Linked DNA regions of Homo sapiens. The protein of the gene in region 2 interacts with the protein of the main gene of each other region in a pairwise test. Each region holds a gene or a part of one and is shown on either strand. Other genes may lie near its edges.

What was found. Proteins that work in one complex are often made in the same cells at the same time.
Region 1: the proteins of CEP131 (region 2) and CEP152 interact in binary tests that used the Homo sapiens proteins (3 or more experiments, as listed by UniProt).

Annotation. Positions count from the first base shown.
Region 1 is NC_000015.10:48,738,055-48,745,100, forward strand, and holds part of CEP152 (centrosomal protein of 152 kDa), read right to left. Parts: intron 6,939-7,046; coding exon 6,842-6,938; intron 6,290-6,841; coding exon 6,186-6,289; intron 4,047-6,185; coding exon 3,893-4,046; intron 3,651-3,892; coding exon 3,547-3,650; intron 1,235-3,546; coding exon 195-1,234; 3' UTR 1-194. UniProt on the Homo sapiens protein: Necessary for centrosome duplication; the function also seems to involve CEP63, CDK5RAP2 and WDR62 through a stepwise assembled complex at the centrosome that recruits CDK2 required for centriole duplication.
Region 2 is NC_000017.11:81,189,070-81,191,985, reverse strand, and holds the end of CEP131 (centrosomal protein of 131 kDa), read left to right. Parts: intron 1-635; coding exon of another isoform or gene 636-650; coding exon 651-793; intron 794-901; coding exon 902-1,079; intron 1,080-1,183; coding exon 1,184-1,347; intron 1,348-2,010; coding exon 2,011-2,071; coding exon of another isoform or gene 2,072-2,142; coding exon 2,143-2,217; 3' UTR 2,218-2,390; downstream 2,391-2,916. UniProt on the Homo sapiens protein: Component of centriolar satellites contributing to the building of a complex and dynamic network required to regulate cilia/flagellum formation.

The sequences.
Region 1 (7,046 bases), on a different chromosome or scaffold from region 2:
CATACACCATCAGGCCTTTGGAATATTAAGGCAACATAAATATCTCAAGCAATTTTAGAAGAATGCTTTACTTATATAACAGATGTTATTAAAACATCTCAAAAGAGGCAGGGCTCACAATTTTTTTCAGTATGAGGTCTTCCCTTCCATTTTTGTTAATATATTAATGATTCTTCTTAAATACTGTACCATAATTAGTCTAGATTAACAAATGGGCTATCAAAGCCACTATCTTGTTGGCTAGATAGCGGAACAATTAATTTTCTTGAAGGCTGCTGACACACTGAAGATGGTAATGTACTGCTCAGTTTTTTGAAATCTGACTTTAATCTATCAGCCTTATGACGAGATGGGTGTCCACAATTCACACTGATCTTTCCTGGCTCCAAATACGTGGTTTCTTCTGACAGGTATGGAGTTTGATAACGCTGACATTTCATTGTTTGACAAATCATATTACTTTCCTCTGTATCTGAAAGATAACCGGATGGTGAAAACTGTTTGGATTTAACAGATTCACTTGGTATTTCCAAAGTTCCTTGTGGCCTACCATGTACAAATGATGCTTCACGACTGTCAAAGGATAAGGTTGCACTGCTGGAAGGCCAGCCCAAGCAGTCACTAAGGTCCCCTCCATCTTTTACTGGAGGTTCCTGAACATCCAAACCTTGACTTTTCTCAGATGCAGCATTTTCACTTTCCATTAGTGGATTGCATTTATATACTTTTAAACCAAGTCTTTCATTAGAATCGCGAAAGGTTATATGCATGCATCCTGATTCAGAAGGACCAGGGGTACATCTAGGTGAGGGTTTATTTCCTAAGGTTCCAAGAAAGGGGTATGCAGCTGAATGCGGAAGTGATTCAGAACCATTATCACTGAGTAGGTCTTTCTTCTTGTGCAAACCAAAGCCTCCTTCACCTTCACAAGGAACAAACTCAGGAGAAACATTCCTTGGCAAACTGTTTAGGTGCTTGCAACTACCATCCCCAAACTGGAATTCCAAATGTGTCTCTTTGGATCCCACATGCTTTATGCTCTGATGCTCTGAGTTCTCTAACAGCCTTTGTAAGTTACAAGCTGCCCTCCTCTTGGGAGCTTGTTCGCACAGAGTTCTGGTGATGGTGTTTACACTATTTGATTTGCTTTCAATACAACATGGTATTTTCTGATTCACATCATTTCTTTTTGATTTTTTAACTGCAATCAGCATCTCTGAAGTTAGGGGCAGTGCTATTATGTGCAAGGAAACACGAAATTAAGAGAAAATTAATATTTAAAGGGAAGATTCATCCTTGAACAAAAAAATAAAAAAAATTAAAAATAAGAAAAAATTTATGTTTTTATACTGTATTCCCAAAGAATGCTTATATACTGTAATAATTCTTAAAGAAAATACATCAATGCTGGACATTTAAAAATATTCTTTTACATATATCCACTAGATAAAGCTTGGTAATTTTGTTACTAAGATCTGATATATAATTATTATTGCTATCCATCTGACCTATCATTTTCTGCAATAGATGTTATAGCAATTTCAAGATCCAGCCACAATGTTTTCAATCCTGCCCTGATTCTGATGTTAAGAATGGAGTTTCTGACAAGTTCGCTCAAAGAACCCCACCCACCCAATACCTACACATACACTTCTAGAATAGCTAAATAGACTTTCTGATTTAATTACCTAAGACACTAAATCTGATCAAAGACAAAGCAGCCACATAGCATGAAATTAGAGGCATTGTATCTCAGAGTAGCAAGCCCTAGAGTCCATGAAAAGGATTTGCTTCTCTACTGGGGACATTATTTGCACACTGTTGCCCCAGATCTAGAAAATTATTTTCTTGTTATATGTTACTGCCTTTTCATACCTAAGGTTCACATCACCATTCCAAAATTTATACAAATAATCTTTGGCTTGTACATGAGGAATGTTTACCAACATCAGACTCATGGACCCCTGAACAATCTCAGCTTCAAGTTTTCCAGAGGTTCAAGAACCCCATTTCCCCACTGATATGTTAAAAATCTCTCAGTGTGATTGGGAATTTACCAGTCTTTTTCATGTATTTCTATCAGCTCTTGCTTTATATAAAGCTGTATGATCTACAGAAAGAAAACAATTACAGTTTCTTGGGAGACTATTCCATTATCATTATGAACTATCAGCTTTGTCCCTTTTAATGCTAACTCTAATTTATCTAATCTTTTATTTACCTCTATAATTTATCTAATATCAACACTGCATTTGCTTGGTATATCATTCTCCATCCCCTGATTTTTAATTTTAGATGTTCTTCTTGTAAAAATAGCAAATTTCCACATTTTTAAAAACCCTATTTGAAAGTTGTGGTCTTTTAATAACTTATATGAGTTTAACCTACTTATATTTAGTGTGATTGTTGATGTTTCAAACTACTATTATGTCCTACTTACCCACGCTCTCTAGGTTTTTTTCCTCTTTCCTGATTTTGTTAGATTGAAAATGTTTTTTTCCAAGTTTTTCCTTTACCAGTTTTAAAGTTATACGTTCTATGTTTTTGTTGGTTACTCTTACTTTTTTTTTTTTTTTTTTTTTTTTTTTTGAGACAGGGTCTGCTCTGTTTCCCAGGCTGGAGTGCAGTGGTGCGATCACAGCTCACTGCAGCCTTGACCTCCCGGACTCAAGTGATCCTCCCATCTCAGCCTCCCAAGGCAAGTCGGCTCCCAGTTCCTGCTTGATATGGCTAGCCACCTGGAGCACTGCCCTGCTCCCAGATTCTTTGTTCCTGTTGTTGTTGCCCAGCTCAATATTGAGGTTGGGGAAAGGAGGGGAGAAGAAGAAATAAAGAGAGGATTAACCCCACCTGGTTGCTGTTGGTTTAGAACACCAACTAATTACCCCATTCATATCCCCTAGGCCCTCTATTTCTCCTGGAACATATCACCCTCATATGTGGAACAGTTTTGATATTGCTCCTAATTGCAATAGTCATCTCCCGGTGGTTTTGAACTGAGGTTTCCATCTTCCATCCTATACTGTCTTCTTTCTCTCAGGGATTTCTTGTAGCTTCTGGTCTATCCACTGCAAACTTTTTTTTTTTTTTTTTGAGACAGGGCCTCACTCTGTCACCCAGGCTGGAGTACAGTGGCACAATCATAGCTTACTGCAACCTCAAATTCCTGGGATCAAGGGATCCTCCCACCTCAGCCTCCCAAAGTGCTGGGATTACAGGTGTGAGCCATGATGCCTGGCCCACTGCAACTTTTTAAAACCCACTTATAATTTCTTCTTTTTCTCATTCTTTATTTGCTGTTTAAAATCTTTTCTATCATTTCGAGGGATGGAAGCAGCAATAGGAAACTGATGGGCATGCTCAGTCTGCCTACTTAAATTGGAAACTGTGTACTCTTTTTGCGTAAACTTCTAGTTTAAGTAAAACATACAAAACTTCACAAATTAACTCTCACTCCTTACCTTCCCTGCCTTCTTCATACTGAAAATATTAAATAGCTAAAGAAGAAAAGATAGAAAAACCATTTGGCGACTCACTTTGACATACCTGACTGTGTAGTTTTGCTTTGGGACTTACTAGAAATAGGTGTTTCCAGTAATTTTGCCATTGTAGCAAGTTTGCTAGCAGCATTCATAATCTTTTTCTCAGCCCTGTGGGGAATTCCAGAATATTAAAAATATAGTTTAAAGGAAAAAATGAGTTGCCTTAGCCCCATGGTTTCTGTTTTCCTATTGGCTCTGCCAACATTTAGGGTAGCACAGCCATAAACCTCTCTTAACCCCCTATGGCTGATCATGTAGAAATAGTTAATTTAGTGGTTAAGGAAAATGCTTTAAAAATGATAACATGTTGTCCTGGTAATCTCAGGACACATTGTTCAGACTGAACTCACCCTTCTTTTCCATCATCCTGCAAAATCTGTTGGAGGCAAATCAAATAATATTTGCGCATCTTTCGGGCGGTTTCTTGACGTTCTCGCAGTACCTCTGCTTTTACCATTTCTGCAGCTCGTTCCTTACTCTCCTGAATATAACGAAGCATGTCACCTATAGGGAAGTGAGAAAATGCCCACAGAATGTATGTTTATTAGCACTTTTTCAGAAACAGGAGGGGCAGACTTCAGATCAATTTTCTGGTAGATGAAGTGATTTTAAGTATAGTTTAAACATTATACTTTCCACAGTCATTAAAATGGAATATTTTAGATCATCATTTTGGTAGACTCAAATGAGAAGTACTCTATAAGTTCTTTCGGAATGATGACAGCTACATATAGTAAGGAAACATGGCATATTCCCCAGCTAAATTTTGTCATATTCTAAAACACTTAGCGAAGAAAATACTGTAAATATGAGGTACAGAAACTTAGTATTTCAATTGTACATTATGTCCAGTTAGGAAAAGAGAAAAATAAAATATAGAGAAAAGGTTAAGCAGAAAGAAAGGAAAAAGCAAACACAAAGACAGAAGAAAAGGAGGCAGTATGAGCTGGAGAGACTCATTCTTCTCTAGTGCTCTGAAAATTTACGTTCCATTATTTATTGAAAATTCTTTCAGCAGCACTTTTTGAGCATCTAACTAAATATAATATTACAATTCATAAGAGATATGTACAAAATGAGACTACAAGGAGGGTGATGGGACTTATAGTTGGCCTCTGAAATTTACATATAAACATAGCCCACAGCTTTCAAGTTTTTTTTTTTAACTCAATATATCTTTGATTAGGACTACTATTAGCTAAGGCTAACTTTTATTTTTTTTTTTAATAAATCCAAGACTACATCCTACATCTAGAATTTCACCATCTCTGTTATATTAAGGATACCAATTCATACAGGAATCTTCCTGTTAATGTCAGTAAGCATCTGAAAATTAGTGGTTCTATGCAAAAATACTAACTGGGAGACTGTTTTTCATTATTTGAAATGGAAAATGAAATGCAGTACATGTCAAAACAAAACCTCCAACCAACTTTCTAAAAAATAACTAAAACATAATATACACACATACATACAAGTTATCACATTAGGATGAAAACATGCTTAAAATTCCACTTCCCAATTAATACATTATTAACAAAAAGTTGCGTTGCTTGTAGCAATATGCCCTTTATTAGCACCAGTAACAACGGAGAAGCAAATTCCCTTATAAATACCGAATGAGCTTTGTAGAACATCTACACGTGATTCTGAATCTACCAATTATATTTGAAACTTCAGACTTTTCCTGCTCTTTTTGTTAAAAAGAAATGTAATTTTAGGAAGTTAATATACATTTTTCCTATATAAACACTACTTATTGTTTTGGGACATATATCCATTCTATGCATATTAGAATTAGAAACCAAGAAGTATTCAAAACAGGGAAAACACACATCAGGAGAATGCTCTACAGGATATGCTGGCACAACCTGGTACTGACAAGGACTTGATAAATTTATAGCTATGAGAAATAATAACCAGAAACAACAGAACAATTGCTAACTAGATCCACTTCTACAGTCCTTAAAAGTTTATGGTAGGAGGCCGGGCACAGTGGCTCACGCCCGTAATCCCAGCACTTTGCGAGGCCGAAGCGGGTGGATCACCTGAGGTCAGGAGTTCGAGATCAGCCTGGCCAACACGGTGAAACCCTGTCTCTACTAAAAATACAAAAATTAGCTGGGTGTGGTGATGCATGTCTGTAATCCCAGCTACTCAGGAGGCTGAGGCTGGAGAATTGCTTGAATCCAGGAGGCGGAGGTTGCAGTGAGCCGAGACTGCACCACTGCATTCCAGCCTGGTTGACAGAGTGAGATTCCGTCTCAAAAAAAAAAAGTTTATGGTAGGAAGTAATAGTTAATTGCTCATTTAAAACCCATGTGACATTTTCTTTACTACAAATTAGTTAAGTTGTAAGATTATTAACTTTTCAGTTTAATACTAGTGTCCAAAAAGAAACAAGAAAATCAACAATATAAACATAAGACGATTCTCACATCACTTCCAAAAGATATTATTTGGGAAAAATGATCAATGACTACATAATTTTGAAAAGGTATCAATAATCTCTTTTAAGATTGAAGAAAAAGGTAATTTGGAAAATTCCCTAGAAGAACTACTGCTGGTAAACTCTGAGTTTACTTTAACAGTGATAATAAAAAAGGCCCAAGCCATCCTTAAAATCTTCAGAATTAAACTTACATTTAATTTTTTTTACAGCTTTAATGTACTGCCCACGAAGTTCTTCCAAGGCTCCCCCACTGCATGGCAGGCAAGCATTTTCAATGGCCCCTGCTGACAATGACCTAAAAAACAAACCAAAGATTACAAAAACAGAAATGGTAAGTGAAAAATTTCATTTGAAAAATATATATGTATCCATATACTCTAATAAAGTTAACTGAGAAGTGCTAAAAATCTCATCTAGAACAATCTCCACTATACAGTTATTTAAAATAGGGGAAAAATGGAAACAACATAAATGTTATGGTTGCTTCAATAAATAACAGTAAATCCACATGAAAATTTATGCAGGTATTGAAAAACATATGTAGGAGAATATCTAATAACATGGAGAAATGCTTATCTAGTAATATTAATAAAAAGTTATAAAATACCTTATACTATAGCCTCAATTTTAAAAACACATTGTGCATGTGGAGTATGTGTAGAAAGAGGCTTAAATGATATAAAACAAGAGGTCACTAGAGGGTATCTTCAGGAAATAAGGTTTTGGGGGATTTTCTTCTTTTTTATACTTTTTGCTGTATAACAAAAAAAATTGATACTTAAAAAAATTTAAAGATACTTGTACTTAGATTTCTTTAAAATAGCACTTTAAAATAGTAAAAGTATACCTTGGTGGTGTTTTACAAAGTGTTTGCAATTCTTCCAATTTATTCTTCATGTCGTTGTTTTCTTCTATTAATTCTTCAACAACTTTATTATTCTCTTCTATAACAGAAAGTTTATAGTATATTAGACAGTTAAAAATTTTTTAAGCCTTCTTTTCCCTTAAGTTCCCAATACAAATGTTTATAGAAGAGACTGTGCAATTTCCAG
Region 2 (2,916 bases):
ACAACAGGGGCTCCCCCCTTAGCCTCTGGGGCCTTCTGTGGGGGGTGGACTCTGCCACGGTGACAGTCCCACACACATTCTCACCACCCATGCCCGCCGCGAGGCTACAGTCCAGGCTGACCGTGCCCGTCACCTGGTTTCACACCCTGGTGGGCTGGGATGTCACCGAGCAGCCAGGCAGGCTTTGGCAGTGGATGCCTCTGGGCCCAGTAGCATGCTCCCGACGTAGCCCTGTGGGGCCCAGGGCTGGACAGATGAAACTCTGGGAGTTTTCAGAGGCTTCCAGGAGGCTGCCAGCTTAGGCTCTGAATGCCTGGGCTTGGGGGCCCAGGCCCCGCCCTCAGCAACACGCAAGTCCAACTTTCCCATCCCATCTGGTAGCAGAAGGTGGCCTCAGGTTGTCATGGGCTGTGGGTCTCTGAGGGAGGGGACCGTGGGCTGTGCATCATGACGATCTCTGGTACGCCTATGCCCACACTGGGTCCTGACAACAGGACGTAGCGCACCCCTGGACAGGGGTCTGGAGAGGGGGAAGGCCCCTTGCTCCCCTGTGGCTCAGAGCCTGGAGCCCCCCAGGACCCCCTGAGGCTGGCCCTGGCCCCGCGGGCCGGCTCCGGGTGGCAACCCCCAGGCAGCGCATGTCCCCCCAGGAGGCGTGGCTGCTGAACCGGGAACAGGAGCTGAGGGAAGAAATCCGGAAAGGCCGGGACAAGGAGATTGAGCTGGTCATTCACCGGCTGGAGGCCGACATGGCGCTGGCCAAGGAGGAGAGTGAGAAGGCTGCCGAGAGCCGGTAAGGACCCGCCATGGCTGGGTCACCAGCTGGGGAGGCCCACGAGCTGAGGCGCAAGGACCCGTGTGTGACTGGGCTGGAGTGACCCTGCCCTCCCCCCACCTCCAGCATCAAGCGCTTACGGGACAAGTACGAGGCCGAGCTCTCCGAGCTGGAGCAGTCGGAGCGGAAGCTTCAGGAGCGGTGCTCGGAGCTGAAGGGCCAGCTTGGGGAGGCCGAGGGCGAGAATCTGCGTCTGCAGGGCCTTGTGCGGCAGAAGGAGCGGGCGCTGGAGGATGCGCAGGCGGTGAGTGGGCGGGTGTCAGGTGGGCAGTGGGCACCCACAGGCCCCTCCTGCATGCACGCAGCCAGTCGCTGGCAGCCGGCTCACTGCCTTCTGTGCCCACCCAGGTGAACGAGCAGCTTTCTAGCGAGCGCAGCAACCTGGCCCAGGTGATCCGCCAGGAGTTCGAGGACCGGCTGGCAGCCTCTGAGGAGGAGACGCGGCAGGCCAAGGCCGAGCTGGCCACGCTGCAGGCCCGCCAGCAGCTGGAGCTGGAGGAGGTGCACCGGAGGTGGGCGGCGGGGGCTGCAGGGCTGGAGACGGAGGCGGGGCAGGGGAGCGGGCAGGACCTCTGCAGCTCCAAGCCCCAGGAGGCTGTGGCTGAGGAAGGCCAGGAGATGCAGAGACAGGGCCCTGTAGACAGAGGCTGGTGTGGGTTCCATGTTTGGGGCCCAGGAGACCTAGATCTGTTTTCCTCCCTGGTGCTTAGTCTAGGGTGTCGGCCATCCCTGTTGGGGCACCCGAGTGGGTCGGGTCTGGGCCTGGCGAGTTCTCCAGGGAGTCAGCTCCCGGGGCCCTGGGCTGGGTGGACAGGCGCTGAAAGAGCTGGGGCACTGTAAGGTTCCCAGCGAGCTCCCTCCACGGGGGTCCTGCATCCTTCCTGTGCCATCTGCTGCCACAGGCTGAGAGGTGGGTGTGGGCGAGGTGTCCCACCCCATCTGGGTACCAGGCCTCCCCAGGTGTGGCCAGGGTCATACTCCAGTGGCCTGTGTTGGGTCCTGACTCACAGCAGGTGGGTTGCCTGGACAGCTGTCTGGGCCAGCCACAGGAGTCGTGGTCAGCAGGGCTGGGACCAGGCTGACCAGGCGGCTGCCCCGTGCACCCTGTGCACTGCAGGCCACTCTGGGGACATGGGGCGGGGGCCACACTGAAGCCTACCATGTACTACCCACAGGGTGAAGACAGCCCTCGCGAGGAAGGAGGAGGCCGTGAGCAGCCTCCGGACACAACATGAGGTGAGTCCCTGTGGCCAGCCCTGCTGGACCTCGGGGCTGGGAGCAGGCCTGACCCTGTGGGTGTGCTGCAGGCTGCGGTGAAGCGGGCCGACCACCTGGAGGAGCTGCTGGAGCAGCACAGGAGGCCCACGCCAAGTACCAAGTGACCAGGGATGCCGGGAACACTGTCGAAGAACGGAAGGCAGAGGACAGAGGCTGGACGTGGGCCCAGAGGCCCACAGGGACGCCCACCTGCCCCCCACAGAGGCTGGTGGTTGAGATGCCCACGGCTAAGCACCTGTGGCTGCATTTTAACAGTAAAGGAGGCCGTTGTTTTCAGCGCCTTGAGTGACTGCCTTGTCTTCTCTCCTGGGCTAGAGGCTGCCCAAGACCCCCAGAGCAGCCAGGCGTGGGTTTGGCTCTCTTCCTCCCACTCCCCTCCGCAGCCTGAGCAGGCTGACCAGGAAATCACGAAGCTTGGCCATCAGCCCCCCAGCTAGCAGCCCTCAACACTCAGCCAGCAGCCCCCAGCACTCAGCCAGCAGCCCCCCTGCACTCAGCCCTCAGCTCCCCAGCATTCAACCCAACCCCCAAGTTCCTGTTCCCTGCCTTGCCCTGGACCCTGGAAGTCCCAAGCACAGGGAATTCCCTACCCCGTTCCTGGCCAGGCGCAGGAGGAACTCAGCAGAACTCACCCCCTGGGAGGAGCTCCGAGGGCCCCGCCGTGGCCCTGCAGGTGCTGGAAGCCCATGGCTGCCAGCGTGCTCCTATGGCTGGAGAGACTCCAGAGGGACAGGAAGCCCTACCCTCCCCGCTGTCAAGGTGTGACAGTCTGGAGCTCTCAAGAAATGGGGATGGACAGGGCC